Linked DNA regions of Homo sapiens. The protein of the gene in region 1 interacts with the protein of each later gene in a pairwise test. Each region holds a gene or a part of one and is shown in the gene's direction. Other genes may lie near its edges.

Region 1 (8,262 bases):
CTCACACCTGACCAGCTGAGCACCACCATCTAGTGGCCACCAGGCTCAGTTCCCTTCCTCGGGACAGGCCATGGATGAACAGACTTGCTGGTCACCAAGGCTCAGCCAGAGAGACTGTGTTCTCTTCACCCAGCTTGCTGACCACCACGCTGTGCCAGGCACTGGGCCAGGGCCAAGGGCCCAAGCAGAACCAGCGGGCAGCAGTCATGTGGCAAAACTGCCGTTTGAATTAGAGGCTGGCCTATTTGGCAAACACCAGGCACCCTGTGTGTGGGTTGATGCCACATGTGGGGCTGGTCTGTCCCAGGAGGCATCTGGGCTTTACCCTGTAAGCAGAAGGTCATCTAGCAGATTCTGATGTGAGGGAGGGGCTCAGGAAGGTCATCTTGTCCTCACCTCAGCTTGAAGCAGGCACAGCTTGGCTGTAGGCTCCTTGAAAGGGCATCCAGACTTCTCTCTCCATGGCTGGTATTATCCTGCTGTGCAGTCTAGAAGGCAGTCTAGGGTTTGGCCAGAGGCTTTAGAAGTTGGGGCCTTCCATTTGGGGAAGCAGGAGAGGAGGCACCCCAGAGAATGGGGCCTGAGCCAGGCTAGGAGGATGGGGGGTTTGGGTGGAGGCTGGACGGGCTGAGGGCCTACCCTTCTCTGTTTGCTGTGTCTGCCTGCAGCAGATGCAAATCAGAGTGTGGTTTAGAACAGAGAGAGGACAGTCACAGCGGCTCACATCTGTAATCCTAGCACTTTGGGAGGCTGAGGCCAGAGGATCACTTGAGGCCAGGAGTTCAAGACCAGCCTGGGCAACATAACAAGACTTGGTCTCTGAAAAAAAAAATTATCTGGGCACACTGTCATGTGCCTGTAGTCCCAGCTCCTTGGCAGGCTGTGGCAGGAGGATTGCTTGAGCTCAGAAGTCTGAGGCTGCAGTGGGCTATGATGGTGCCACTGCACTCTGGCCCTGGGTGGCAAAGTGAGACTTTGTCTCTAAAAAAAAAAAAAGAGAGAGAGAGAACATACTGTCATACTGTCCACCACTAGGGCTTGGTACATGAATGCATATAGTGGAAAATCATGCAGCTGTTAAATGATGATGCAGACAAATATTTATTGATGTGGAAAGATGTTCACAACATATTGTTGAGTGAGAAAAGCAAATTACAAAATAATTTGTACGGCATGAGCCCATTTTGAAAAAAATGATTATATATGTGTGGAAAAAATCTGGTAGTGTTTATCTCCAGGTGGCAAAATGATGGCTAATTACATTTTTTTGTATTGCTTATCTATAGTTTCTGACCTTTCTACAATGAATATTTAATTAAAAAGATAATGAAAGTTTGGAACACAACCACGACCAAATCTGTCTGTATCTTTGGTTCTCTGTGCAGACACCTTTAGATAGTTAAGGGTTGGCCAGGCGTGATCTATATGTACCGGTTGTATAGGTCATGCCTGTAATCCCAGCACTTTGGGAGGAAGAGGTGGGAGGGTCACTTGAGCCCAACAGTTCGAGACCAGCCTGGGCAACATGGCGAAACCTTGTCTCTAGTAAAATACAAAAATGAGCTGGGCATGGTGGTGTATCTCTGTGGTCCCAGCTACTAGAGAGGCTGAGGTGGGTGGATCGCTTGAGCCAGGGAGATTGAGGCTGTAGTGAGCTGTGATAGCACCACTTCACTCTAGCCTGGGCAACAGAGCAAGACCCTGTCTCAAAAAACAAAAACAAGATAGTTAAGGGTTGAGTGTGAGGAAAGGTCTGAGGGTTGAGAAGGGGTGGAGGATGCACCTGGGCCTATGACAGGGGTCCACGGAGGTGGCTGATGGCAAAAGCTGGGGGACTCCAACTGCTGATGCTGAAACAAGCTTGTGTCTCACATACACAGGGACAGTTCACTGAGCTTCAATGACAGGCACCTCCTGCTCATCACATCTTTTCTCTCTAGGACAGCTTTGCCCTTATTTTAACTAGACTTCCCTTGAACCAAAAGGGAAGGCTACATGCTGTGACTTGCTGGGCAGCCTGGAAAGGCGGGCCACTCCTAGCCACAGAGATGAGACAGAGTTCAGACAAGAGCTTATCCCCAGTCTTCCTTTTCTATTTTGTTTATTTTATTTTATTTTTTTATTTATTGAGACAGAGTCTCTGTCACCCAGGCTGGGGTGCAGTGATGCGACATTGGCTTACTGCAGTCTCCACCTCCTGGGCTCAGGTGATCCTCCCACCTCAGCCTCCCGAATAGCTGGGATCACAGTAGTGCACCACCATACCTGGCTAATTTTTTTGTATTTTTTGTACAGACAAAATTTCACCACATTGCCCAGGCTGGTCTCGAACTCCTGGACTCAAGCGATCCGCCCACCTCAGCCTCCCAAAGTGCTCGGATTACAGGCATGAGCCACTATGCCCAGCCTTGCTCTTCCTTTAAAGCCTCCTGTCCTTCCCCAGGTCCCCAGTTCATAGCAGGATCAAAGGTCACTGGGCGCTCACCCCGTCTTCAAGATGCTCTTTCCTATGTCACTGCTTACGCCCAGGTCAGATGTGACTAGAGCCTAAGGAGCTCCCACCTCCCTCTCTGTGCTGGGACTCACAGAGGGAGACCTCAGGAGGCAGTCTGTCCATCACATGTCCAAATGCAGAGCATACCCTGGGCTGGGCGCAGTGGCGCACAACTGTAATTCCAGCACTTTGGGAGGCTGATGTGGAAGGATCACTTGAGCCCAGAAGTTCTAGACCAGCCTGGGCAACATGGCAAGACCCTATCTCTACAAAAAAAGTTAAAAAATCAGCCACGTGTGGTGACACACACCTGTAGTCCCAGCTATTCAGGAGGCTGAGGTGAGGGGATCACTTAAGGCTGGGAGGTTGAGGCTGCAGTGAGTCGTGGTTGCGCCACTGCACTCCAGCCTGGGCAACAGTGAGACCCTGTCTCAAAAGACAAAAAAAAAAAAAAAAAAAAAAAGAACATATCCTGGTGTGGAGTAGGGGACGCTGCTCTGACAGAGGCTCGGGGGCCTGAGCTGGCTCTGTGAGCTGGGGAGGAGGCAGACAGCCAGGCCTTGTCTGCAAGCAGACCTGGCAGCATTGGGCTGGCCGCCCCCCAGGGCCTCCTCTTCATGCCCAGTGAATGACTCACCTTGGCACAGACACAATGTTCGGGGTGGGCACAGTGCCTGCTTCCCGCCGCACCCCAGCCCCCCTCAAATGCCTTCCGAGAAGCCCATTGAGCAGGGGGCTTGCATTGCACCCCAGCCTGACAGCCTGGCATCTTGGGATAAAAGCAGCACAGCCCCCTAGGGGCTGCCCTTGCTGTGTGGCGCCACCGGCGGTGGAGAACAAGGCTCTATTCAGCCTGTGCCCAGGAAAGGGGATCAGGGGATGCCCAGGCATGGACAGTGGGTGGCAGGGGGGGAGAGGAGGGCTGTCTGCTTCCCAGAAGTCCAAGGACACAAATGGGTGAGGGGACTGGGCAGGGTTCTGACCCTGTGGGACCAGAGTGGAGGGCGTAGATGGACCTGAAGTCTCCAGGGACAACAGGGCCCAGGTCTCAGGCTCCTAGTTGGGCCCAGTGGCTCCAGCGTTTCCAAACCCATCCATCCCCAGAGGTTCTTCCCATCTCTCCAGGCTGATGTGTGGGAACTCGAGGAAATAAATCTCCAGTGGGAGACGGAGGGGTGGCCAGGGAAACGGGGCGCTGCAGGAATAAAGACGAGCCAGCACAGCCAGCTCATGTGTAACGGCTTTGTGGAGCTGTCAAGGCCTGGTCTCTGGGAGAGAGGCACAGGGAGGCCAGACAAGGAAGGGGTGACCTGGAGGGACAGATCCAGGGGCTAAAGTCCTGATAAGGCAAGAGAGTGCCGGCCCCCTCTTGCCCTATCAGGACCTCCACTGCCACATAGAGGCCATGATTGACCCTTAGACAAAGGGCTGGTGTCCAATCCCAGCCCCCAGCCCCAGAACTCCAGGGAATGAATGGGCAGAGAGCAGGAATGTGGGACATCTGTGTTCAAGGGAAGGACTCCAGGAGTCTGCTGGGAATGAGGCCTAGTAGGAAATGAGGTGGCCCTTGAGGGTACAGAACAGGTTCATTCTTCGCCAAATTCCCAGCACCTTGCAGGCACTTACAGCTGAGTGAGATAATGCCTGGGTTATGAAATCAAAAAGTTGGAAAGCAGGTCAGAGGTCATCTGGTACAGCCCTTCCTTCCCTTTTTTTTTTTTTTTTTTGTGAGACAAGGTCTCTCTCTGTTGCCCAGGCTGGAGTGGCGCAAACACAGCTCACTGCAGCCTCAACCTACTGGGCTCAAGCAATCCTCCAGCCTCAGCCTCCCAAAGTGCTGGGATTACAAGCATGAGCCACCCCACTCAGCCCTTTCCTTCCTTTTTAATTGATGCATAATAATTGTAAGTATTCATCATGGTCCAACCAACCCTTTCTTGACCCACCTTCCTAGAGAGAGGGTCCTCTTGCTTCAGCGGTCAGGGCCCCAGACCCATGGTCTGGCTCCAGGTACCACCTGCCTCATGCAGGAGTTGGCGTGCCCAGGAAGCTCTGCCTCTGGGCACAGTGACCTCAGTGGGGTGAGGGGAGCTCTCCCCATAGCTGGGCTGCGGCCCAACCCCACCCCCTCAGGCTATGCCAGGGGGTGTTGCCAGGGGCACCCGGGCATCGCCAGTCTAGCCCACTCCTTCATAAAGCCCTCGCATCCCAGGAGCGAGCAGAGCCAGAGCAGGATGGAGAGGAGACGCATCACCTCCGCTGCTCGCCGCTCCTACGTCTCCTCAGGGGAGATGATGGTGGGGGGCCTGGCTCCTGGCCGCCGTCTGGGTCCTGGCACCCGCCTCTCCCTGGCTCGAATGCCCCCTCCACTCCCGACCCGGGTGGATTTCTCCCTGGCTGGGGCACTCAATGCTGGCTTCAAGGAGACCCGGGCCAGTGAGCGGGCAGAGATGATGGAGCTCAATGACCGCTTTGCCAGCTACATCGAGAAGGTTCGCTTCCTGGAACAGCAAAACAAGGCGCTGGCTGCTGAGCTGAACCAGCTGCGGGCCAAGGAGCCCACCAAGCTGGCAGACGTCTACCAGGCTGAGCTGCGAGAGCTGCGGCTGCGGCTCGATCAACTCACCGCCAACAGCGCCCGGCTGGAGGTTGAGAGGGACAATCTGGCACAGGACCTGGCCACTGTGAGGCAGAAGTGAGGAGGGGATGGGGAAGGGGGGCCTTGTGAGCAGAAGGGGCTGAATCCCCAAGAAGGAGTGCCCGAGAAGTCTCAGGGAGGGGCCGAACCTCCCTGCTCCCTGGGCCTCCCTACCTCTTGATGGGGCACTATCCTTGCCCCCCAACATGATGGGAGGGACCAGAAACAGGCCCAGGGCCCCGGGGATCTGATGCCCGCATGCCTTCTGCCAGGAGTCCAGGGTCCCCTCAGCACCTCCCTACTGGGGAAAGCAGTGCAGGAGCAGCGGGGCCCCTGTGTTTCATTCATGGCTGGGCTTTGTGACTGTGGGCAGCGAGCTCACCTATTCTGAGCCTGTGTCCATATAAAGGAGGAGTTGGAAGCGGAGAAGGTTGATGTCCATGAGGGAGATTGGATTCTGGGGTGAAGAAAGTGAGGGAAAGAGCAGGCAGGTCTGGGCGCAAAGCACAGGTGACTGCCTGCCACCAGCTTGTGACCCCCATCAAGTTACTTTGACTTGCACAGCTGTGAAGCGGTGGTCATAATAAAATTCATTTCAAAAGGTGGTTACCTGGGATCAGAGGAATCCCCAGGGGCATGGCGCTTCACTGAGCTGACAGGACATGCATGTGTGCCTTCAAGTGCAGGAGGACATGTGCGTGTGTGTGTGTGTGTGTGCAACAGTGAGTGTATGCTTGTGGATGCGCCTGTGTGAGCAGAAGCAGGTGCACCAACCCTGATAAGGCACCTTAGTAATGAGTTAAGGCAAAAGCCCACATCTGCTCATCCTCCAGACAAGTCCTCTGTCTAAGGCCCCCCAACCCTTAATCCTCCTGCTGCTCTACTGGTCCTGGGTGGGGGTGGTCTCTGTGACAGCTGCCTCAAGGGAGACTGAGGCAGGTATTCAAGTGTCCTCAGAAGAGCCTGGACCCAGGAATGTGTCCCCCCACTCCAGGCTCCAGGATGAAACCAACCTGAGGCTGGAAGCCGAGAACAACCTGGCTGCCTATAGACAGGTCAGGGAGGTGGAGGGGAGGGGCAGGGGAGGGAGGAAAGGATTGATGGCCACCCACCCAAACACAGCCCCCAAGCTCAGCCCGCCAGAGCAATGTGCTGCTCCCCACTGCCCCAGAAGGAGGGGTAAGGCAAGGCTGAGGAATGGGGAGAAGGAGCCTGGGGCCCCAGTGGCCCTCTACTCCTCACCCCTCCTGCCACTCCAGGAAGCAGATGAAGCCACCCTGGCCCGTCTGGATCTGGAGAGGAAGATTGAGTCGCTGGAGGAGGAGATCCGGTTCTTGAGGAAGATCCACGAGGAGGTGAGGCCAGGGCAGAGGGAGGAAAGCTCAACACAGAGATTGCAACTGAGAGAGGGAGAGACAGAGACAGAGAAGCTGAGACTGAGAGAGACACTCAGAGAGAGGAGAGAAACAGAGATTGGCAGGTAGAGACAGGAAATGAAAGACAAACAGAAAGACACTAAGGGAGACGGAAAGAGACAAGAGAGCATTCGAACTCCTGGCCGAGGGGCAGGCAGAAGAGGACACAATGGCGTGGGGAACCCCAGCTGTGGCCTGTACCCTGAGCCCTGGTACCGCTTCTCTCACCCTGGTCAGGAGGTTCGGGAACTCCAGGAGCAGCTGGCCCGACAGCAGGTCCATGTGGAGCTTGACGTGGCCAAGCCAGACCTCACCGCAGCCCTGAAAGAGATCCGCACGCAGTATGAGGCAATGGCGTCCAGCAACATGCATGAAGCCGAAGAGTGGTACCGCTCCAAGGTAGCCCTGCCTGTGGGCCAGCCTGCCTCCTCCAGGCAGCCCTTCTTGCTCTGTACAAGAGAATGGGGGAAGGAGGGTGGAGGAAGCTGGGAGAATATCCTCTCCAGGTGACTGACTTTCACCAGAGAAGTGAGATGGCTTGCCCAGGGTCACACAGGCACTATTGCTTTCAAAAGTACCCATTATTATTACTGCTACTATTGCTATTATTAGTAGTAGCTGATACTGTTCTGTTCTAAGCCCTGTGCTTTTCATGGATTACCTTACTATGAAGTAGGTGCTGTTCTTTGACAGATGAGAGAGCCGAAGTCCAGAGAGGTTAACTAATTTGCTCAAAGTCACACAGCTCCTAAGTGGTAGAGTTGGATTTCCAACTCTAGCACATCTCACTTGGGAGCCTGCATTCCATGCCTCTGCCAGTCTGTTTTGGGTTACTGAGCCTCTACCATATGCCAGGCACCCCCCAGGACACAGAGAGGTGTCTGACCTGGAAGGTGTGATATTGACGTGCACCCAAACATAGTGCCCGTAGAGAACACCACAGCTCAGAGCTTATATGTAGTGTGGGAGCCAGGAAAGACACTGTAGAGGGGGCATTTGGGCTAGGCAGGACAGGCACGCTGTGGACAGGAAGAGAAGAAGGGAGGGCCATTCCTAGTGGAGGACAGAGCCTGGAGGCAGAAAAGCACAGAGAGGCAGGGCCCCAAGATGCTAGCCTAGCCAGGGCACCTAGCTGAGGAGTGTGAGTGGCAGAAGCCACTGGTGTCTGAGCAGGGTGAGGGCCCGATGGGGCTGGGAGGACCTCCCTGCAGGCAGGGGAGAAAGGGCTATTAGAACCCAGGGTGAGGCCAGGCGAGGTGGCTCACACCTGTAATCCCAGCACTTTGGGAGGCCGAGGCATGCGGATCACCTGAGGTCAGCAGTTCAAGACTAGCCTGGTCAACATGGTGAAACCCCGTCTCTACTAAAAATACAAAATCAGCCGGGTGTAGTGGCGCATGCCTGTAATCCCAGCTACTCAGGTGGCTGGGGCAGGAGAATTGCTTGAACCTGGGAGGCAGAGGTTGCAGTGACCCGGGATTGTGCCACTGACTTCCAACCTGGGCGACAAGAGCAAGACTCTGTCTCAAAATAAAACAAAAAAAACAAAAAAACAAAAACACACAAAACACCCAGGCCTCCGCTCGCCTAAGACGACAGCGTTCAGTCCCGCAGATGCAGCTGTCAGTGTGGAAGGTTCTGGATTCTGTGGCACTGTTCATTCATTCGCTTGCTGACCAGGTGTTGTGCTAGGTGCTGAGGTCTGGCAGCCCGCT
Region 2 (7,812 bases), on another chromosome or scaffold:
AGGCTGAGGTGCAAGAATCACTTGAACCTGGGAGGGGGAGGTTGCAGTGAACCGAGATCATGCCACTGCACTCCAGCCTGGGTGACAGAGTGAGACTCCATCTAAAATATAAAAAGAAGAAAAGGGTGCAACTAAGTGATTTTTAGTAGTAATATAATTATCCCTTGTTATCTGTGGTGTATAGGTTCCAGGACCCCACAGATACCAAAATCCACAAATACTCAAGTCTCTTACATAAAATGGCATGGTATTTGCATATAACCTACACATATCCTCCCATATGCTTTAAATCATCTCTAGATTACTGATAGTACCTAATACAACGTAAATGCTATGTGAATAGTTATGCTATATTGGTTATTTGTATTTTTTATTGCTATATTGTTATTTTTTATTTATTTATTTTTTTAGATGGAGTCTCGCTCTGTTGCCCAGGCTGGAGTGCAGTGGTCCACGATCTTGGCTCAATGAAACTTCCACCTCCTGGGTTCAAGTGATGCTCCTGCCTCAGCCTCCCAAGTAGCTGAGATTACAGGCATGTGCCTGGCTAATTTTTATATTTTTAGTAGAGACAGGGTTTCACCATGTTGGCCAGGTCTTGGAACTCCTGACCTCAAGTGATCTACCTGCCTTGGCCTCCCAAAGTACTAGGATTACAGGCATGAGCCACTGCGCCTGGCCTGTTATTTTTTATTTTTATTTTTTCTGAATATTTTTTATCTGCTTGGTTGAATCAATGGATGTGGATGGCCAACTATATATTCATAGTTTTACAGTTTTCTCTACTGTCCGACTCCACAACATTTCATCATCCCAAAAAGGATCCCCATATCCAGGAGATGATTAAAAAAAGAAAAAGAAGTCCCATTATTAGTATCATTGACCATGTCTCTCTTTCTCCAGCCCCTGGCAACCATTAATCTGCTTTCTGTGTCTGGATTTGCCTGTTCTGGACATTTCATATGGCCTTTTTTTTTTTTTTTTTTTTTTTTTTTTCCCCTAAACGGAGTCTTGCTGTCTCCCAGGCTGGAGTGCAGTGGCGTGATGTCGGCTCACTGCAAGCTCTGCCTCCTCGGTTCACGCCATTCTTCTGCCTCAGCGTACCGAGTAGCTGGGACTACAGGCGCCCGCCACCACGCCCGGCTACCTTTTTGTATTTTTAGTAGAGATGGGGTTTCACCGTGTTAGCCAGGATGGTCTTGATCTCCTGACCTCGTGATCCTCCCGCCTCAGCCTCCCAAAGTGCCTGGATTACAGGAGTAAGCCACCGTGCCCGGCCTTTTTTTTTTTTTTTTTTTTTTTTTTTTTTGACAGAGTCTCACTCTGGCTCAGGCTAGAGTGCAGTGGCATGATCTTGGCTCACTGCAACTTCCACCTCCTGGGTTCAAGCAATTCTCCTGCCTCAACCTCCCAAGCAGCTGGGATTATATGCGCCCGCCACCACGCCTAGCTAATTTTTGTAGAGATGCGGTTTCACTATGTTGGCCGGGCTGGTCTTGATCTCCTGACCTCAAGTAATCTGCCCGCCTCGGCCTCCCAAAGTGCTGGGATTACATGTGTGAACCACTGCACCTGGCTAAAATAAATTTATTTTAGATTCAGGGGGTACATGTGCAGGTTTGTTACAAGGGTATATTCCAAGATGCTGAAGTTTGGGCTACTAATGACCCTGTTGACCAAGCAGTGAACATAGTACCTGATAGGTAGTTTTTCAGCCCTTGCCCCGTAGCCGCTTTTGGAATCCCCAGTGTTTATTGTTCCCATCTTTGTGTCCATAAGTACCCAGTGTTTAGCTCCCGCTTATAAGTGAGAACATGGTGTTTGATTTTCTGTTTCTGTGTTAATTTGCTTAAGATAATGGCCTCCAGCTGCATCCATGTTGCTGCAGAGGACATGATTTTGTTCTTTTTTATGGCTGCATAGTATTTCATGGTGTGTATGTGCCACATTTTCTGTATCGTATTTACCATTGATGGGCACCTGGGTTGATTCCATGTCTTTGCTGTTGTGAATAGTGCTGCATTGAACATGTGAGGGCAAGTGTCTTTTTGGTAGAGCAGTTTATTTTCCTTTGGGTAGATAGCCAGTAATGGGATTGCTGGTTCAAATGGTGATTCAGTTTTTAGTTCTAAGCTTTGTAATATTCCACCCTGTTTCTATTGTATAGGTTTTTTTTTTTTTTTTTTTTTTTTTGCTATGCAGGACTACTGCAGTATCTATAGCTTTTTAGTCAGTCTCTGTGATGAATATTTACGTTGTTTCCAGTATTTAGCCATTTAAAATAATGTTGCCGTGATGAATAACCTTGTGCACAGAGTATTTCACATTTTGCTGCTGTAATTTTGGGACATATTCCTAGAAGTGGGATTCCTAGGTCAAAGGGCAAGTGCATCTACAATTTTTCTAGATCTGGTCAGATTCCCCCAAAGAGGTTTTTGTATTTTGCATTCCCAGCAAAATACAATCAGCAATGATGATTGCTGTACCATGTGTTTGTCAATTGTGAATTTGTTCCTAGCATTTAGAAATTGGGAGATTCTACTTAAAAATCCTTATTTCCAGTGTCTTAAAAAAAAATCAGAGAATCTGCCTTAATCTACCCATGGCAACAGTTGGCTAGAGCTGAATAACAGCTGCCCCTTTTCTAGGTACTCTCTAGGTTACTGCAGCCCCCACTTGGCCATTTTACTTACTTTTGCTACCTATCAGTCTCCTATAGACATGAGTTTTTGACCCCTGCTCTAAGTATGGTTTTCTGGGTAGGTAGAATGGAGACGGAGAGTTTGGGACTTGAAGACATAGAGGACAATTTAGATTATTATGTTGTAAGAGCCACCAGTGTGAATGTTGATGACCCTAAAGAGGGTGGCAGGGAATATGACAAGGGGATATTAGGAACACAGGATTGAAATCCTTGAGGAAAGCACATGTCCTAGAGGTCCATGGAAGACTAACTGAAAAAGAAGGCATATTTTTTGTGGTTGCCATGGTCCTATACCAAAGAGGTTTTGTGAAGGCAGCATTACAGAAGGTCTGGAAAGGACCAGCAGCTGGGAGCAGGGAGTGTGCTAAAGCCCTCCTGGTGTACTCTTCCTGCCTTCCCCCATATACTGAAGTTTGAGAGGCTGGGAAGGTGCGGAATGGGAAAAGGAGCAGCTGCTTATGTTCAGTTTAACATTCTCTGGGTTTCTCCATCTAGGTCTTGAGTTCATTCTCTTCCTGTCCTTTTGGCTTCCTTGTTTAACCTGGTCCCTGTTTCAGGAGAGAAGCCTCATCAGTGCCAAGTCTGTGGGAAGACCTTCTCTCAGAGTGGAAGCAGGAATGTGCATATGAGAAAGCATCACCTGCAGCTGGGAGCAGCTGGGAGTCAAGAGCAGGAGCAAACTGGTGAGGAGGGTGGGCATAGTGGAACGCTGTACTACTTCTAGGGTTCCAAGAGCCAAATCACTGTCCTGCCTGCTTATCTGGAAATTTTCTGATTCTGTTTTGGGTAGATAGACCTGGTCTCATTTGATGGGCTGATGGTTTCCAAACATAGCTATACAGTAGAATCATCTGCAACCTTTTAAAATTTATATACTTTTTGTTGCTTGTCCGCCCACCAATAAAACAAAGCAATCTGATAAATGAGATAATTTGCAAGATCCTAGAATCTGTAGTTTTAAAAGTTTCCCTAGTGAGTTTGATGGTAACTAGTGCTGATCCATGAACAAGCATTTGAGTAACACAGTGATAAAAGATTTCCACATGGGAAGAGTTTAAGCTTTTTAATTTTTTTAGATGGAGTCTTGCTTTGTCACCCAGGCTGGAGTGCAGTGGCGCCATCTCGACTCACTGCAACCTCTGCCTCCTGGGTTCAAGCAGTTTTCCTGCCTCAGCCTCTTGAGTAGCTGGGATTATAGGCAGGTGCCACCACACCTGGCTGATTTTTATATTTTTGTAGAGACGGGGTTTCACCATGTTGGCCAGGCTGGAAGCATATTTTATTTACCAGTCATGACTACCTTTTTGCCCTGCCTGAAATTTGATAACTCTTTTTAATTCTTATTCCTTCGCCATATCTTTCCTTAATTATTCCAAATATTCCTTTCTAAAGATCCACCTATCCTGTTTCATATGCTAATTCTTCAGACGCTGAACACAAGCAAGGATCATTATCTTCTAAGGCTTACTCTTTCCCTTCTAGGTTTATTCTTGTTTCTCGAAAGTAGGTGAAATAGGGGGTGGCATCCCATCTATAGGTTAACTTCTAGTAATGAAAGAGAAGGCCAGCTTCTGTTGAAAGAAAATGAGGACCAGGCACAGCCTTGATTGCTGTATGTCTCTCACAACCTATTCTCTGTGCAGCTGAGCCACTAATGGGCAGTAGTTTGCTTGAAGAGGCTTCAGTACCCAGTAAAAACCTGGTGTCTATGAATTCCCAGCCCAGCCTTGGTGGAGAGTCCTTGAACCTACCAAATACCAATTCTATCCTGGGAGTTGATGATGGTAAGACTTCCAACTCTCCTTTATTTGGGAAAAATGGGCTGCAACTAGGGGCTAAGGAATGGGGTGTCTCCACAATGTATGTTTAAATCTCATTTCTTATGAGTAGCTGTGGTATGAGTAGCATTTGTGTTCTTATTCTCTGGGGTGGATTAGTCAATCTGTTTAAAAAAAAATTTTTTTTCATTGAAGATAATATAATAAAAGAATAAAAAGAAAAAATTCTTAAGAAAAAATTATTCCTAATCCTAGCATCCTAGCCCAACTATTTCTATCTTTCCTATTGCAGTTATGGAAGAACTTAACTTTTAGAACATTTAAACAGAACATAACCAGGTTTTACAGAGGAGATATAAAGCAATTTCTCCATACCTTCAAAAGCCATATCTTCTGGAGAAAAGAAAGGGCTCTCTAGGAAACACTTGCTCCTCTCTGGTATAGAAATTTCACCCAAGTTACACAGGCCAGGCCCTCTTCTCTGAAAAACTTAACAGGTGAGGTCAGCATGCATTTATTCAGTGCCTACTGTGTGCCTGGCACCATGGGAAAGACAAAAGTAGAAGATAGGGACCTTAAAATCCAGTTGAGAAGTGAAAGCTTACATATATATGGGAAAGAACATTGAGTACATAAAAGATAGTATATAAGCCAACATTAAATTATATGGTACAGCATAAAATAGTTGTATAATCTAGAAAACCCCTAGAAGAAACTTCTAGTTTTTTGAGGGCTAAGTGGTATATCCATAAACTATTTCCAGAAGATTTTCATGGTGATCCCACTGATGAACATTTAGTAACTGTGAGACCCTATGTTTTTGTTACTCATATCATATTCAGTTAGTAAGTGCTATTAGTATCATTGGCGACTGCTTTTAAGGGTGGCTTTGGTTCCCTTACCTGCTTGCCTAAGACTTTTGCCTGTTTCATACATAGTTTTAATTCAGTTAAAAGTGCTAACACCATATTATTCTAAATCCTGTATTAAGATTTCTTGCCTTTCTATTCTCTTTTTATATTACTTTCCAAATTCACTGATAATGCTTATCAGACAGGATTAACTTGGAAGAAATAGAGGAATGTGGGAAATAGAGGAATAGAGTTTTAGAGTTGTTAATGAGAGGCTTAATGATCCAGATAGGTGTATCTCTGGATTCACTTTTCATTGAAACATTTTTCTGTTGCTTCACAGAGGTGCTTGCTGAAGGATCCCCACGTTCCCTGTCTTCAGTGCCTGATGTGACACATCACCTGGTGACCATGCAGTCAGGGAGGCAATCATATGAAGTTTCTGTCTTAACTGCAGTAAATCCACAAGAGGTAAAGTGGTCTCTTGCCCTTTGTTTCTGTGACAATTCATGTGGGGAATGATTGAGAATTTAGAGGACCTGAAAAAGTCTCCAGTTTCCATTTCCTGGAAACTTTGGCACGAATATTTTCCTTTAAATTAAGCATGAGTTCAGCTTGAAAGGAGCCTGAGGGTTAGGGTCTTAATGAATTGGAGATTGGTCTGTCACAGCTGGGACTCCCGGCTTTAAAGTTCTTTTATATACATTCCTTGTTGATGTCTGTTCCCACTATTCTCTGCCACACTATAACATGATACAGCTTTTATTTTATAAAAGCACACAGCAGGCACTGAATAAATGCATGTTGACCTCACCTGTTAAGTTATTCAGAGAAGAGGGCCTGGCCTGTGTAAATTGGGTGAAATTTCTGTACCAGACAGGAGCAAGTATTTCCTAGAGATCCCTTTCTTTTCTCCAGAAATAACATCCTGGAAAAAGTCCCTCAGCAAAAAAGGTAGTAACAAAATCATTAAACATAATTATTGTTCATTCTGCTATGGTCATATGTCTGGGAGATACCAGGCTTAACCAAATGGGCATATACAGATTTGTTCACTTGCTTGCTAAGTGAGAACCATTACCTAAATCAATGGTCTCCAGCCTTTTTGGCACCAGGGACCGGTTTCGTTTCACCTCAGGTCATCAGGCATTAGATTCTGATAAGGAGTGCGCAACCTAGATCCCTCAAATACACAGTTCACAATAGGGTTTGCGCTCCTATGAGAATCTGTTGCTGCTGCTGATCTGACAGGAGAGGTGGAGCTCAGGTGGTAATGCTTGCTCACCTGCTGCTCACCTCCTGCTGTGTGGCCTGGTTCCTAACAGGGCACGGACCAGTGCTGGTCCATGGCCTGGGGGTTGGTGACTTCTGATCTAAACAAAAAGGGTTTGAGGTTGAGCTAAAGCACTTTCAACTCTGTAGTTTGGCTTTGACTCAGGAAACAGAATGCAAAGTGGTCAGTGTTTTAAAATCTTGGGATATTTCACTGGTCTTGTGTCATGGGAGTGGATGACTTCATCACGAGCACATTTCATATGCATAAACTTTTGTCAAAACCTCTGTAGCTTGGATCCTTTCAGTATTACATTAGTTTTTATGGTGCTCTTCCGTCTTTTCTCCTCTTTTCTTTTCTTTTTTTTTTTGAGACAGAGTCTCGCTCCGTTGCCCAGGCTGGAGTGCAGTGGTGCGTTCTCGGCTCACTGCAACCTCTGCCTCCCAGGTTCAAGCGATTCTCCTGCCTCAGCCTCCTGAGTAGCTGCTACTACAGGTGCGTGCCACCACGCCCAGCTAATTTTTTTGTATTTTTAGTAGAGACAGGGTTTCACCATGTTGGCCAGGATGGTCTCGATCTCTTGACCTCGTGATCTGCCCACCTCAGCCTCCCAAAGTGCTGGAATTACAGGCGTGAGCCACTGCACCCAGCCTTCTTCTTTTCATTATAACCTTTATACCACAGTAAGCTGTTGCATCATTCAAATGACTCTGCATCCTATATTGAATATTCTCCATTATTCTCTAATATCTTTGGGGGTACCCAGGATTACAGGGTTCTGGGCATACATGTTAATGCTTTTGCCAGGACTTTTCTTTTTATTGTTGTGACCCATTGTCTTTGCTTATATTTAAAGTTTTTGATCTTGATATCATTGGTTCTTTCCTAAGTCACTTTTTCTGGTAACTGCTTTGGAATGAATCATACATATCTCACTTACGGAGCCTTCCTCTTTCTCCTCCATTTTTCTTGTCTTCATTTTTCTATTTTAAAGCTTTTATTATGGAAATTTTCAGAGTACAGTGAGAGAGAGACTAGTATGATAAACCCACGTCGAAGTCGAAGTTACGGCTGAGAGCGGCAGCTCACACCTGTCTCCTAACTTTGACTTTTTTTTTTTTTTGAGATGGAGTCCCACTGTCGCCCAGGCTGGAGTGCAGTGGTGCGATCTCAGCTCACTGCAACCTCCGCCTCTCAGGTTCAAGC
Region 3 (7,812 bases), on another chromosome or scaffold:
AGCTTCATGTTGTGTTTTTAGAAACTTACACAGTGCCAAGGCCGGTGGAGGCACCCACTGATCCTCAGAGCAAGGGAGGACAGACAACCGCTGTCCCCTGGTCCTCTGTGAACCCCGGCCACTGCCTCCCCAGCGTCCCGGCAGCTAGAGCACCATGCTGGCTGACCCCTGGGCTCTGGCCCGCAAGCCATGGACCCCATGCCCCTCTGGCCCGCAAGCCGCGCACCCCATGCCCCTCTGGCCCGCAAGCCGCGGACCCCATGCCCCTCTGGCCCGCAAGCCGCGGACCCCACGCCCCTCCTGCTTCAGCTGGTCCCGAGCTCTCCCCTCCTCTCGCTTCCACATGCCTGCTGGGTCTCTGGCCCCTGCCCTTTCTCTAGGGACACTGTTGGTGACTGTCCCCAGCAGCGCCCCCGAAATGTCTTAAAAACAAAGTGGATGCCCCGCCCCGTGCTGTCCTGGGTCTCTGCTCCCTTAGAACAAAGCCCTTTGGGGCAGGTGACCCGTCCCACTCTGCTGCCCTCTCTGGAAGCTTCTCCGTGGCCTTTATCCTCACCATGGGAGCCGCCCTTGTCCCAGTGGAGCTGTGAGCTGTGCCCCTTCAGCCTCAGCGGCTGCCGGATATGGGCAAGTGCCCACCCCCGCCCAGCCTTGGCCCCACTCGGCCCTGCCCCCGGCCTTTCTTCTCTACCCTGGGCCCTCGTGGCACCTGAGTGGGTGCTGAGCTGAGCCTGGCTGTCCTGGCCCTAGCTCTGCCCCTCGCTCAGGCCCCGACGGGGCTTCTTCTGCCTCCTCACCCAGCACTGCTGTGCTCAGCCCCTCAGGGCCTGCACCCCCGACTCAGGGCCCGGGGTCCCATGGCTGCAGGAGCAAGGCCCTGCACGGCAAGGGCCACAGGCCTGGGCTGGCCCGACTCCATCCACCTCCCTGTCCCTGACGTCCCAACCTCCCTCCCTGGCCCTGGACTCCTAGCCTTGGTGTGGCCCTGTGGGGACAAGAAGGCTGAGGACAAGAAGGCTGTGGGACTCCTTTCTGCCTCCCTCACATGCAGAGTCTTGCTACTTCCTTTGCTCCTTCCTTCCTCTTTCTTTCTTTCTTTTTTTCTTTCTTTCTTTCTTTGACGGAGTCTTGCTCTGTCACACAGGCTGGAGTGCAATGGCGCCGTCTCTGCTCACTGCAACCTCCACCTCCTGGGTTCAAGCAATTCTCCTGCCTCAGCCTCCTGAGTAGCTGGGACTACAGGCACCCGCCACCACGCCCAGCTAATTTTTTTTGTATTTTTAGTAGAGATGGGGTTTCACTATGTTGGCCAGGCTGGTCTCAAACTCCTGACTCTGATCCACCCGCCTCAGCCTCCCAAAGTACTGGGATTACAGGTGTGAGCCACTGCACCAGACCTCCTCTTTCTTTCTTTCTTTCTTTCTTTCTTTCTTTCTTTCTTTCTTTCTTTTTTTGAGACAAGGTCTCACTCTATCACCGAGTATTCACAGCTCACTGCAGCCTCGAACTCCTGGGCTCAAGAGATCCTCCCAGCTCAGCCTCCGGAGTAGTTGGGACTAGAGGTGTGAGCCACTGCACCCGGCTGATACTTTTTCCTTTTTTGGGTAATTTTCAGCAAAGACCAGGTCTTGTGCCTGCGTGAGTTACATTCTAGGCTTCAAAGCTTATCCAGCTAGAAGAGCCTTCATTAACAAATATCTTTTTAGCACATCAGAAAAATAAAAACTTCTTTCAGAATAAATTATTTTGAAGTACCTGGGGGTTGGGCGCAGCGGCTCATGCCTGTAATCGCAGGGCTTTGGGAAGCTGAGGTGAACAGATCATTTGAGCCCAAAGTTAAGATCAGCTTGGGCAACAGAGTGAGACCCCATCTCAAGAAAAAATTAAAACTGAGAAGTACCTGGGGGCCTTCTAGTCAAGCCAACCCACTGTGTTGCATGGACTGGCAACACTGTTTTGTGAATATGATTCAGATCCTTCTGGAAGCGCAAATGTTAGAGTATTTCAGAGTCTCAGTTGCTCAGGTGAGCGGCAGGCTCATGGGATTCCGGTTTCATTCCAGTGCATCCCCTCGGCAATTGTGAGCTTCACCGTCTCCAGGAGGAACGCCAATGTGGTGAGTCTAGCTTGCAGGCAGCCTCTGCCAGGGAGAAAGCCGGAGGGGCTGACAGACAGTGTGCCCATGTGTGCTTGTGTGTGTGCCCACGCACAGACGTTGTGGCACCGAGAGGGGCCCCCGAGGTTGCCCCCCAGACAGTAAAGCTCCTGCCCAGCCCAGCCTTTGCCGCACAGAGGGGAGAGCGGGCTGAGCACGCAGGACTCCCCACCATTATGTCCTAATCAGGATAATTTTTAGTGAATGGCCTGAAGTGTGGTTTATCTGTTACCTTTTTTCTTTTATTATTCAAAGAAGGAAAACCCCTCCTGCCTTGTTTTTCAGATTCCCAACTTTCAGATATTGTTTGTTTCCACGTTTGCTGTGACCACTACGTGTTTAATTTGGTTTGGATGCAAACTAGTCCTGAACCCATCAGCAATAAACGTGAGTTCACACGAGCTTCGCGCAGACGCCTGACACCCACAGCCCCACTCCCACGAATGGTGTCAGCAAATGTTTGTTGAGCTGGAAATAGGTGGTAAATGTTATTCACAGCTCGTGAGTTTGACTAAAGTTGAGAGATTTATGCATCCAAAGAAAATAATTGTCTTTATTGAAGTCTCGTGATTCTGCGGGACAGATTTATTGGTAAACAATGTCTTTTCCAACAGTCCTTAAAAATTAACAGTGACATAATACTATGTTTCATCCAATCTGTGTAAGACAGTTGTTCAATGCACCTCTAAACAAAAATGTGAAATTGTAGGGGGCAGAGGTTGTGGGAGCCGAGATGGCGCCACTGCACTCCAGCCTGGAAGACAGAGCAAGACTCCGTCTCAAAAAAAAAAAAAAAAAAAAAAAGACAAAAATCCCAAAGGAAACCAGGACCTCATCCGAGATACTGCAAGGAGGGCCTCCTGCTTTGTGTGACATGTGGAATGCACTTGATGATTGGGGAAAGCTGGAGGAGGCTTGAGTATGTCCTGGCCACTCTCGTTGGGCAGGAAAAATGAGCAGACACAGGAGGACCCAGTGGGAACACCCACACTGCCTTTTTGTTTTGTTTTGTTTTGTTTTTGAGAAGGAATCTCGCTCTGTCGCCCAGGCTGGAGTGTAGTGGCGCCATCTCGGCTCACTGCAACCTCTACCTCCCGGGTTCAAGCAATTCTCCTGCCTCAGCCTCTGGAGTAGCTGGGATTACAGGCGTGTGCCACCACACTCGGCTAATTTTTGTATTTTTAGTACAGACAAGGTTTCACCATGTTGGCCAGGCTGGCCTTGTACTCCTGACCTCAGGTGATCCATCCACCTCGGCCTCCCATAGTGCTGGGATTACAGGTATGAGCCACCGCGCCCGGCCTGTGACGCTTCTTTATTAAGACGGAGAGCAGATGGGGTGTGGTCCCTGGGTCAGTGGCTTGTATCTGAACTGCTCAGAGGCAAGTTACTCACTGTAGCTGTCGGCTGGCCCTGGGAGGAGCTGTCTCTTCAGGATCAGGAAGGAGCCAGAGGTCAAAGCACCAGAAATACAGAAAATAAAAGACAAGGTTAATGTCACACTTTTCTGAATTTTAGAGTTCTCCTTATGCTTTTGTCTTTTTGATCTGTCATTTTTTTTTTTTTTTGAGACAGTCTCGCTCTGTCGCCCAGACTGGAGTGCAGTGGCTCCATCTCGGCTCACGGCAACCTCCGCCTCTCGGGTTCAAGCAATTCTCCTGTCTCAGCCTCCCGAGTAGCTGGGATTACAGGCGTGCGCCACCGTACCCAGCTGATTTTTGTATTTTTAGTAGACAAGGGGTTTCACCATGTTGGTCAGGCTGGTCTGGAACTCCTGACCTCAGGTGATCCAACCGCCTCGGTCCCCCAAAGTGCTGGGATCACAGGCGTGAGCCGCCTCCCTCTGCCTGATCTGTCAGTTTCTAAGAAAAGTGTTTCAAGTCCTTCCCCACCTCTACTGATATATCTACATCTTCCTGTGGCTCTGTTATGACATCATATATTTCGAGGCTCTGTTTTTAGTTGAATGTGGTTCTGCACTCTTTCTTTTTTAAATGTATTTTAAAAATTGTCAGGCCGGGCGCGGTGGCTCACGCCTGTAATCTCAGCACTTTGGGAGGCCGAGGTGGGCGGAACACCTGAGGTCAGGAGTTCGAGACCAGCCTGACCAACATGGAGAAACCCCTCTCTACTAAAAATACAAAATTAGCCGGGCGTGCTGGTAGGTGCCTGTAACCCCAGCTTACTCGGGAGGCTGAGGCAGGACAATCATTTGAACCCAGGAGGCAGAGGTTGCGGTGAGCCGAGATTGCGCCATTTGCTCTCCAGCCTGGGCAACAAGAGCGAACCTCCGTCTCAAAAAAAAAAAAAAAATTGTCAGACAGCTACACTGACTTTTTAAAATGTATGCTTCTATGAATATTAACACACATATAAATTCATGTCACTGCCAATACGGTCAGGGCCTGCAGTCGTTTCATTACCCTCCAAAAAACCTTATGTTCTCAGTGCTTGACAATCATGCATGAAGCTACTCTAAACATTCCGTGAAGGCTTTTGTGGGAACAAGGAGCGTTCAGAATGGGGTCGGTAGACCAGAGCCCAAGGCCAAATCCAGCCCTGGCCTGTGTTTGTACAGCCTTTGCACTAAGAATGGTTTTAAAAACTAAAAGACCCCAAAGGCCCATGTGAGGCAGGAGAGTGTGCAGCCCACAGTGCCTCACAGCTGGCCCTGGATGGGAAAAGTGGGGACCGTGGCTGAGAGTCCTGCGCAGCCTGCCCGTGAGGTGGTCCGGTGGACGCTGAAGCGCGGTGGCGTGAGAAAGGCGGGCCCGGTGCTGAAGCGTGTGTGCCCCTTGGCAGATCAACTTCAACCTCATCCTGCTGCTCCTGCTGGAGCTGCTCATGGCGGCCACGGTGATCATCGCTGCACGGTCCAGCGAGGAGGACTGCAAGAAAAAGAAGGTGGGTGCAGCTTCTGACCCCGCAGGGCAGGGGGTGCAGAGGCATCACCCCAGGGTGAGCGAGGTGGGTCTCAGCGTCACCCTCGGAGGGCCGATCTGGGCTGCTCCAGGGCATTCCCATGAGACCCCTCTCTCCTGGGTCTCAGAAACCCCGGCCAGGAGGGGCTCTGGAGCTGGGTGAGGGGTTGGCGGCCGCTGGCTACAGGGAGGTGAAGACAGATGCTGTACCCTCCCCTCCCCCTAAGCCTGACTCAGTCCAGTGCTCGTCCCCAGGGGATCACCAGGAGACACCACATCTGCTAATTTTCATATGCAAGGACAATGTGTGTGAACATTTCCTCAAGCCCAAAGATCCACGGGCGCCTCCAAGGCGGTCTCGCATCTACACGGCAGGCTGACCTGACCCACTGCCCACGGCGGCCGGATGCCAGCGGCAGTGCTGAGTCCCTGTGCCCGTGCACCCGGGGTGACAGTTCTGTTTCTTCGTAGGGCTCCATGTCTGACAGCGCCAACATTCTGGACGAAGTGCCATTTCCTGCTCGGGTCCTGAAATCTTACTCAGTAAGAAAACTTCCCTTCTTTCTCTTTTCTCTCATACTCTGTCGGGGGTGACTGAGGCTGGATTAAACGTCACGTTTCGATTCCGAGTTGGCGAAGAGTTGGCTGTCTACACCGCATGGCGGCGTGCGCCTCATCTGTGGAGACTCTAGTCTGTTATTGGTATCATTGGTAATAACCTTCCTTATCGCGAAAGGTGCTGCTGGTGTCCTGTAATTTTTAGGGGGAGTTTGTTACTGCCGTAGGTGAGTTGACACTGTTGTCCCCGAGGAATTTTTTTTTTTTTTTTGAGACGGAGTCTCACTCCATCAGCCAGGCTGGGGTGCAGTGGTGCTATCTCAGCTCACCGCCACCTCTGCCTCCCAGGTTCAAGTAATTCTCCTGCCTCAGCCTCCTGAGGAGCTGGGACTACAGGCACATGCCACCACGCCCGGCTAATTATTTTATTTTTAGTAGAGGCAGGGTTTCGGCATGTTGGCCAGGCTGGTCTCGAACTCCTGACCTCAAGTGATCCACCCACCCAGGCCTTCCAAAGTGCTGGGATTACAGGTGTGAGCCACCGCACCTGGCCTCTTTCTCCTTCTTACTTTCAACTTTTCTTGCCTTGTACTTTGGTATAATTGTTATAAGCAGCACGTAACTGTATTTTGTTCTTTATCTTGTCATTCTCTCTCCCTAGCTTTTTGAATGTAGCCCATTTCCTCTGAGAGTTATTACTGATAAATTTCTACTTATTTTTACCATCTTTTGAGTTTTCCATTTTCCCTGATTTTGCCTTTTTCCCTCCTTCCCTGCCTTCTTTTGAATTGGCAGAGGCTCCGTCCTTCCTTTTCCCTCTAATTTTGGATGGGAAATTTTTCAGTATTCTTTTGGGGGTTGCCCTTCATATTCTAATACGCTCCTTGATAAACAGACCATGCGGGGTCTGTCCCCCTTCCCTCCGCCTTGGCCTTGTTGTCTAGCTTGTGACATTTAGTGACATTTTGCCTTTTTACTCCAACAATGGGACAGCCTCCTGTGTGCTTGACTGTGTCTGTGTGTGTTTCCCAGTGCCTTCACTTCCCCTTATTTAGCATTTCAGTCCTCTCTTAGGTTCCATTTCCGTTCTGCTTCTTTTTTTTTTTTCCTTTTTTTTTGAGATGGAGTCCTGCTGTTGCCCAGGCTAGAGTGCAGTGGTGTGATCTTGGTTCACTGCAACCTCTGCCTCCTGAGTTGAAGCGATTCTCCCGCCTCAGCCTCCCGAGTAGCTGGGATTACAGGTGCCCGCCACCACGCCCAGCTAATTTTTGTTATTTTTAGTAGAGACGGGGTTTACCATGTTGGCCAGGCTGTACTCAAACTCCTGACCTCACGATCCGTCTGCCTCGGCCTCCCAAAGTGCTAGGATTACAGGCATGAGCCGCCGTGCCTGGCTGGGAATTCAGCTTTATTTGTGCATCTGGAGTTTTGTGCCTTCTGGACGCAAGGCCTGGCTGCCCAGGTCCCTTCCGGCCCCCAAGCCCTTGCTGGCCCACTCCTTATGCCTGGCTTTCCTGCTGGCCACAGCTCTGTGTTTGCGACTCACAGAGATCCTTCACGGGAGCAGGTTTTCGGGCGTGTGTTTCTTCCCCAGCCCTCCCTGAGTCTGGCGGTGCTGGTTGCGGCCCCTCCCTGAGTCTGGCGGTGCTGGTTGCGGCCCCTCCCTGAGTCTGGCGGTGCTGGTTGCGGCCCCTCCCTGAGTCTGGCGGTGCTGGTTGCGGCCCTGATGGTGCCGGGCAGATGAGTCCACAACCAGGGCTTAGGCCAGCAGGGTTCTTGGCTTTGTCCAGGAAAGAATTCAAGGGCGAGCTGGAGGTGACAGACAGCAGCTTTGTTTGCAGTGGCAGTATAGCAGGGCTCTCCAACCGGCAGGTGCCTCGAGCAGCAGCTCAGAGACAGCTCTGCCTCCTATTTATACCCACTTTTAAGTATATGCTAATTAAGGGGCAGATTATGCAGAAATTTCTAGAAAAGGGGTGCTAACGTCCAGGTGGTTGGATCATTGCCACGGAAAGGGGTGGTGACGTCCAGTGTTGCCGTGGCAATGGCAAACCCACATGGCACGGGTGGGTGTGTCCTATGGGAAGCTACTTCTGCCCCAGGCCTGTTTTCCCGAGTCCCTTCGATGGGGTCCAGGGTCTGAGCACCGCCGCCTGCCACACTGTGAGACAGGGAAGG
Region 4 (7,812 bases), on another chromosome or scaffold:
TTGAGTGGGAGCAACTGGTAATGCTGGACAGTGACCCGATGCTGGGATCCCGCGTGGAGATCTCCATCGGTCTTGCCCCTGGCTGAGTCTTGGCATGTGCAGCTGGGATGGAAATGCTCCTCCAGTGGACAGTTACAGCAGCTAAGACATGGCTACCTTGCTCAGCCAATAGGAGGCGGTCACCTACAAACATCCCTTCCAAAGGTTCAAGGCTCCCCTGAGAACTTGGATGCTGGGGAATGGTGCACCTTCCCTGCTGCTCACTGCACCTCTCACCTGGCAAAGAAAAGCCACAGGAAATCTAAGCCCTTTCTGCAGTCTGGCATCGGCATATGAAAGATTCCAACGAGGAATTTCAGAACTCATCCCAGCTCCCGAATCTGAGTAAGCACAGACCTCTTGAGTAGGGCTGAGCAAATGCGGCAAAATCAATGCACATATGACAAGATTCAGTGGCCCAAAGAAGGGAGCTAAATGAGGAATCAAAGCAAATACCCCATATGGAATTGCTGTAAAAAATCAGAGAAAACCTGAAAGTAGTGGTTTTCAAGCATGACCCACTAGTGGATTGAAAATCAACTTAGCGGGTTGGAACCAACTTCCTTTTTCTAAAACAAAAAAAGAATAGCATACATCAGATTGCATCAGGTTCTTAGCAAAATCATATTTTATATTATCTTTTTCATACCAAAGATATTTTATATTATTTTTATTATACCGTAGTAAAGGTATTGTTTCATGAAAGTTTTTAGTTATATATATTTATTTATTTATGTATACATATAAATCTTATGTGTATGTGATCCATGTACTATGATGTAAAATGTAAATTATTATGGTAAGTCAAGATTTTTTTAATTTTTAAAATTCTTTAAAAATTATTTTTATTTATTTATCTATTTATTTTTTGAAACAGGGTCTCACTCTGTTGCCCAGGCTGGAGTTCAGCAGTGCAATCCCGGCTCACTGCAGCCTTGACTCCGTGAGCTCAGGTGATTCTCCCCCTTCAGCCTCCCGAGTAGCTGGGACTACAGGCACACGCCACCACACCTGGATAATTTTTTGTATTTTTATTAGAGATGGGGTTTTGCCATGTTGGCCAGGCTGGTCTCAAACTCTTGAGCTCGAGTGATCTGCTCGCCTCAACCTCCCAAAGTGCTGGAATTAAAGTCGTGAGCCACCATGCCTAGCCTAGGTCAAGATTTTAAAAGTTTCATAAATAGTCCTGTAGAACACTGGGTGGAGTTTGGAATGGTGAAAATGTGTCAGGAGAGTATTGTAACTGAAATATTCCTGATCTTCTCTTTCAAAAAGATGGCCTTCTTCCCATTATCCAAGGCAAGGATTTCAGGCCTGAGTCAGCCATAAGCTCATCTGTCTTTTTTTCTGTACTTACCTCCTCATAAATGGATTAAGAGAGCCTCGAGCAATGGTGAGGGTTGGAGAAGGTGGACAGGTGGCCCAGTCTTATGCGCTTTCCCTCTCTTCCTTCCTTCTCCTCATCCTCCAAGGATGGTTGTAGCCAACTCCAGCCAAAGTGCAGATGCCAGAGAATCCTGCAGCAGTTGCTGAGAACACAGGATACCTGTCACATTTACTGAAGCAGTGGCAGGACAATGCATCCCCTGCATTGAGCTAGTTGTCAGAAGCAGAAAATAAAAAGTGTGTGTGTGTCTCTGTGTGTGTGTGTGTGTATGTGTGGTGAAAAAGAGAAATATATCTAAAAATAATCTTAAAAGACATGATATGTAATTTCTTACCAAAACTCAAGCCAAAGCAATCACACATACACCCACACACATGCACGCACACACCCCCATCCACACACACACACACAGAAGTAAATGACAGCAGTTGGACCATCAAAATCTGAAAAATTCTTTCAGGCCAAAGACTCCATAATGCTCTATAGCTGTTATTTTGCATTTCTTTGAATCTCCTCTCAGTTCTATTTAGAGATCACGAAATGTCTAATTTAATGGCCCTGCCCTTAGTTCTCCAGGAAGGAGATCTTAGTTGTTCATCCACGAACAACTTTTTGAGCCACTTTCCTACTTCTATTTCTTCCAGTAGGCAGATCATATTTTGGGTTTCTTTGTTTTAAGTTTGTGGTTTTTGTTTTTCCCTCTTTTTCTTTTTAGGTTGTAGTTAAGTGGTGTATACAAATTTATTAGCAATTTATTATATTGCCACTTTGTATTTTAATCTTTAATATTAAATTTTGTGTTTGGTAAAAATGCTGTAATTAGTAAAATGTAGAGTAATCAGTTTTTACCCATTCTCTGCTCTTCAATAACAGCTTGTTGAGTATTCTCTCTGATTTATTCTAGCATCAGACACACACACGCGCACACACTGTGCTGCAGCATGTTTTGTTTTCCAATTCTATGTAGCACAAAAAGACTTAACCTCATTCTTCTCCATATCTCAACAGTATTCCATGTATCTTGATGATCACTTACAATATAAGGCAAGTAAGCATAGGCAATTCATCAGATTTGAACCAGAGATGGGGTTACTAAGTGAACTATTAGTTCCCCAGAAGAATTAGCCCAAGCAAAGGTGTTGTACAGTATGTAAAATGTCTTTTCCTACTTTATACATTTTATCTGGCCAGAGAACACCTTTAAACATTAAATGCAATCATCCTTAGTCATTCAACAAATATTTACTGAGCAATTGATAGAGGCCATTCGCCAAGCTAGGCCTCATGGATCAACTCGAAATATGACAGACAGACTCTGCCCTCAGGGAGCTTAGAGTTCAGTAGACATGACCAGTGGTGACACAAGCCACTGGAGTAGCATCAGATGAGTGCTTTGGTAGTGGAAGAACCTGTTCTCAGAGCACAGACAGCTTTGGGGGTCTGTATTGGTTTGTGGTTTCATTTTAAAGAAGTGTTATCCAAAAATAGGGTTTGAAGAGTGATGAAAATTTAGCATCATCAAGGACTATAGAAAATTTGGAAGGCATATCTCCTAATGCTATCCCTCCCCCCTCCCTACACCCACAACAGTCCCCAGTGTGTGATGTTCCCCTTCCTGTGTCCATGTGTTCTCATTGTTCAATTCCACCTATGAGTGAGAACATGCAGTGTTTGGTTTTTTGTCCTTGCAATAGTTTGCTGAGAATGATGGTTTCCAGTTTCATCCATGTCCCTACAAAGGACATGAACTCATCATTTTTTATGGCTGCATAGTATTCCATGGTGTATATGTGCCACATTTTCTTAATCCAGTCTATCATTGTTGGACATTTAGGTTGGTTCCAAGTCTTTGCTATTGTGAATAGTGCCCCAATAAACATACGTGTGCATGTGTCTTTATAGCAGCATGATTTATAATCTTTTGGGTATATACCCAGTAATGGGATGGCTGGGTCAAATGGTATTCCTAGTTCTAGATCCCTGAGGAATCGCCACACTGACTTCCACAATGGTTGAACTAGTTTACAGTCCCACCAACAGTGTAAAAGTGTTCCTATTTCTCCACATCCTCTCCAGCACCTGTTGTTTCCTGACTTTTTAATGATCACCATTCTAACTGGTGTGAGATGATATCTCATTGTGGTTTTGATTTGCATTTCTCTGATGGCCAGTGATGATGAGCACTTTTTCATGTGTCTGTTGGCTGCGTAAATGTCTTCTTTTGAGAAGTGTCTGTTCATATCCTTCACCCACTTTTTGATGGGGTTGTTTTTTTCTTGTAAATTTGTTTGAGTTCATTGTAGATTCTGGATATTAGCCCTTTGTCAGATGAGTAGGTTGCAAAAATTTTCTCCCATTCTGTCAGTTGCCTGTTCACTCTGATGGTAGTTTCTTTTGCTGTGCAGAAGCTCTTTAGTTTAATTAGATCCCATTGGTCAATTTTGTCTTTTGTTGCCATTGCTTTTGGTGTTTTAGACATGAAGTCCTTGCCCATGCCTATGTCCTGAATGGTATTGCCTAGGTTTTCTTCCAGGGTTTTTATGGTTTTAGGTCTAACATTTAAGTCTTTAATCCATCTTGAATTAATTTTTGTATAAGGTGTAAGGAAGGGATCCAGTTTCAGCTTTCTACATATGGCTAGCCAGTTTTCCCAGCACCATTTATTAAATAGGGAATCCTTTCCCCATTGCTTGTTTTTGTCAGGTTTGTCAAAGATCAGATAGTTGTAGATATGCGGCATTATTTCTGAGGGCTCTGTTCTATTCCATTGGTCTATATCTCTGTTTTGGTACCAGTACCATGCTGTTTTGGTTACTGCAGCCTTGTAGTATAGTTTGAAGTCAGGTAGCGTGATGCCTCCAACTTTGTTCTTTTGGCTTAGGATTGACTTGGCAATGCGGGCTCTTTTTTGGTTCCATATGAACTTTAAAGTAGTTTTTTCCAATTCTGTGAAGAAAGTCATTGGTGGCTTGATGGGGATGACATTGAATCTATAAATTACCTTGGGCAGTATGGCCATTTTCACGATATTGATTCTTCCTACCCATGAGCGTGGAATGTTCTTCCATTTGTTTGTATCCTCTTTTATTTCCTTGAGCAGTGGTTTGTAGTTCTCCTTGAAGAGGTCCTTCACATCCCTTGTAAGTTGGATTCCTAGGTATTTTATTCTCTTTGAAGCAATTGTGAATGGGAGTTCACTCATGATTTGGCTCTCTGTTTGTCTGTTATTGGTGTATAAGAAAGCTTGTGATTTTTATACATTGATTTTGTATCCTGAGACTTTGCTGAAGTTGCCTATCAGCTTAAGGAGATTTTGGGCTGAGACGATGGGGTTTTCTAGATATACAATCATGTCATCTGCAAACAGGGACAATTTGACTTCCTCTTTTCCTAATTGAATACCCTTTATTTCCTTCTCCTGCCTAATTGCCCTGGCCAGAACTTCCAACACTATGTTGAATAGGAGTGGTGAGAGAGGGCTTCCCTGTCTTGTGCCCGTTTTCAAAGGGAATGCTTCCAGTTTTTGCCCATTCAGTATGATATTGGCTGTGGGTTTGTCATAGATAGCTCTTATTATTTTGAAATACGTCCCATCAATACCTAATTTATTGAGAGTTTTTAGCATGATGGGTTGTTGAATTTTCTCAAAGGCCTTTTCTGCATCTATTGAGATAATCATGTGGTTTTTGTCTTTGGTTCTGTTTATATGCTGGATTACGTTTATTGAATGCTAAATGACGAGTTAATGGGTGCAGCACATCAACATGGCACATGTATACGTATGTAACAAACCTGCACGTTGTGCACATGTACCCTAAAACTTAAAGTATAATAATAACAAAATTAAAAAAAAAAAAGAAAAAAAAGAAAATTTGGAAGGCATTGGAAGCAGCCTGCACCAAGTCCTGGAAGCTAGAGAGCGCATGGGACATTCAGGGGACTGAAAAGGTTTAGTGCTGTAATAGAATGGAGTTCAAGATAGGGCAGAGCAAGAGCCTGGAGGGGTTGGGGGAGCAGACCATGATGATAAAAAAATTGACAGGCCACAAAACAAGACAAATTTTAAGTCTCAGTGACGGTTGTTAATACGATTTTGAAATAAAGCAAATGATAAATCTTAGACCGGGCGCAGTGGCTCACACTTGTAACCCCAGCACCTTGGGGGGCCAAGGTGGGTGGATCATTTGAGGCCAGGAGTTCAAGACCAGTTGGCCAACCTGGTGAAATCCCATCTGTACTAAAAATACAAAAATTAGCCGGGCATAGTGGCACGTGCCTGTCATCCCAGCTACTCGGGAGGCTAAGGCAGGAGAATGGCTTGAATCTGGGAGGCGGAGGTTGCAGTGAGCCGAGATCACACCATTGCACTCCAGCCTAGATGACAGAGCAAGACTCCATCTCAAAAAAAAAAAAAAAATCTTGAGAGATGATATATAATGATCTATGATGTCCCCTAAATAGTCAATCACTCTGAGAGCACCTAGCACCTCACCTCTTGCATAGGGAAGAGGCATCAGATAGTGCCATTCTTGCAATCAATGAAGAGGAAAAATACAGGCTCAAATATTGCTTTGAAAAATTCTTTACATAGCCACCAGTAATATCAAATAAAATGAATGAAACCTATGATTCATTAAGAAGGAAAAGAAAGTGTGAATAAGTTGACTGGAAAACAAGAAAAGGAATAATTAAGGAGCCATAATAAGAAAAACAAAACATGTGAGAAGAAAGATGAATCAATTAAGCTCTGTAGTAAGATTACACATTAAAATAAAAGAGACTCTCAGATTCAGTTTAAAAAAGGGAAACAAAAAAAGCCTAAAGAAACAAACTCTCTCTCCCCAGTCCAATTATATCCCACTTTCAAGAGACACATTTAAAACTTAATCACATAAAGTTACAAATAAAGGGATAGGAAAATACTGTGCAAATGCAAATTAAAAGAAAGTGAGGTGTCAGTGTTAATTTTGTCAGACAAAATAAAAATTGAGGCAACTATTAAATAGATCAAGAATTACTTTTTTACAAAATGATAAAAAGAGCACTCAATGAAGGCATGAAAATCAGAAAACTTTGGGTAAACATAAAGCGTCGAAATATGTAAAACAAAAAAATTAGAGATATACTCCAAATATGGTGTTAGATTTCAATGTACACCACTGTTAAGATTTTTTCAGATTAATTAGACAAAATGTACATAAAGAGCTTGAATTCTATGACTTACAAAATTGAATATGTGCTTACATATATATGCAGTCATGTGTTGCATGGCAATGAAGATAAGTTCTGAGAAATTTCATCGTCGTACAAACGTTACATAGGGTACTTAAACAGACCTGGATGGTATAGCCTACTACACCCCAAGGCTATATGGTATTGCCTACTGCTTCTAGTCTACAAGCCTGTACAGCATGTTATTGTAGGCATTTGTAACACAGTGGTAAGTATTTGTGTATCTGAACATTTGTAACAAAAGGTACAGTAAAAATATGGTATTTTAATCTTATGGGACCACTATCATATAAGCAGTTCTTTGTTGACCATAATGACTGCATTTTAATATCACATTTGAATATATACATATTTGAAACCCAAAACACAGAATAATCATTCTTTTCAAATGTGCACAGAACACATAAAACACTTAGTCACATCACATACTGGCTAACAGAGTAAACCTCAATGAATTCCAACAAATAAAAATAAGACACATCCTGTGGCACGATGCAATTAAACTGGAATTTTCTAATAAAAAATTGTAAGAACAGCAACACTAAATCTGGGAAATTTAACTACATGAAATTAACAATAACACCAAAAATCTCCTGAAGAACTGAGTTTAAATTGGGAATCAAAACTGCAATTACAGACCATTCCTAAAATAACATTTAGAATATTGTATTTCACAATTCCTGGGTTGGGGCCAAAAGGATGTTCAGAAGAGAATTTCGGGCTTTAAATAATGATGATGATGATGATGATGATGATGACGATGACATGGTGGCAATAAAACCACCCAACAAACCATGCTAAGAAATTTACATCCAGGCCAGGTGTGGTGGCTCATGCCTGTAATCCCAACACTTTGGGAGGCCGAGGCAGGTGGATCACGAGGTCAGGAGATCAAGACCATCCTGGCTAACACGGTGAAACCCCGTCTCTACTAAAAAAACCACAAAAAATTAGCCAGGCGTGGTGGTGGGCGCCTGTGGTCCCAGCTCCCCTGGGGAGGCTGAGGTAGGAGAATGGCGTGAACCTGGGAGGCAGAGCTTGCAGTGAGCTGAGATCATGCCACTGCACTCCAGGCTGGGCGACAGAGTCAGACTCTGTCTCAAAAAAAACAAAAAAAAAAAAAAACAAAAAAAAGAAAAGAAAAAAGAAATTTA

Evidence for each region.
Region 2: the proteins of GFAP (region 1) and ZNF410 interact in binary tests that used the Homo sapiens proteins (3 or more experiments, as listed by UniProt).
Region 3: the proteins of GFAP (region 1) and MLC1 interact in binary tests that used the Homo sapiens proteins (3 or more experiments, as listed by UniProt).
Region 4: the proteins of GFAP (region 1) and IL16 interact in binary tests that used the Homo sapiens proteins (3 or more experiments, as listed by UniProt).

Annotation. Positions count from the first base shown.
Region 1 is NC_000017.11:44,911,953-44,920,214, reverse strand, and holds the start of GFAP (glial fibrillary acidic protein), read left to right. Parts: upstream 1-4,714; 5' UTR 4,715-4,728; coding exon 4,729-5,189; intron 5,190-6,126; coding exon 6,127-6,187; intron 6,188-6,391; coding exon 6,392-6,487; intron 6,488-6,784; coding exon 6,785-6,946; intron 6,947-8,262.
Region 2 is NC_000014.9:73,917,719-73,925,530, forward strand, and holds part of ZNF410 (zinc finger protein 410), read left to right. Parts: intron 1-3,261; coding exon 3,262-3,387; intron 3,388-4,347; coding exon 4,348-4,488; intron 4,489-4,980; exon of another isoform or gene 4,981-5,018; intron 5,019-5,676; coding exon 5,677-5,804; intron 5,805-6,983; coding exon of another isoform or gene 6,984-7,085; exon of another isoform or gene 7,086-7,101; intron 7,102-7,812. UniProt on the Homo sapiens protein: Transcription factor that binds to the sequence motif 5'-CATCCCATAATA-3', and is specifically required to silence expression of fetal hemoglobin in adult erythroid cells.
Region 3 is NC_000022.11:50,074,648-50,082,459, reverse strand, and holds part of MLC1 (membrane protein MLC1), read left to right. Parts: intron 1-2,062; coding exon 2,063-2,116; intron 2,117-2,440; coding exon 2,441-2,542; intron 2,543-4,957; coding exon 4,958-5,059; intron 5,060-5,547; coding exon 5,548-5,619; intron 5,620-7,812. UniProt on the Homo sapiens protein: Transmembrane protein mainly expressed in brain astrocytes that may play a role in transport across the blood-brain and brain-cerebrospinal fluid barriers. Regulates the response of astrocytes to hypo-osmosis by promoting calcium influx.
Region 4 is NC_000015.10:81,199,479-81,207,290, forward strand, and holds part of IL16 (pro-interleukin-16), read left to right. Parts: exon of another isoform or gene 1-332; coding exon of another isoform or gene 333-384; intron 385-922; exon of another isoform or gene 923-992; intron 993-7,812. UniProt on the Homo sapiens protein: Interleukin-16 stimulates a migratory response in CD4+ lymphocytes, monocytes, and eosinophils. Primes CD4+ T-cells for IL-2 and IL-15 responsiveness. Also induces T-lymphocyte expression of interleukin 2 receptor. Ligand for CD4.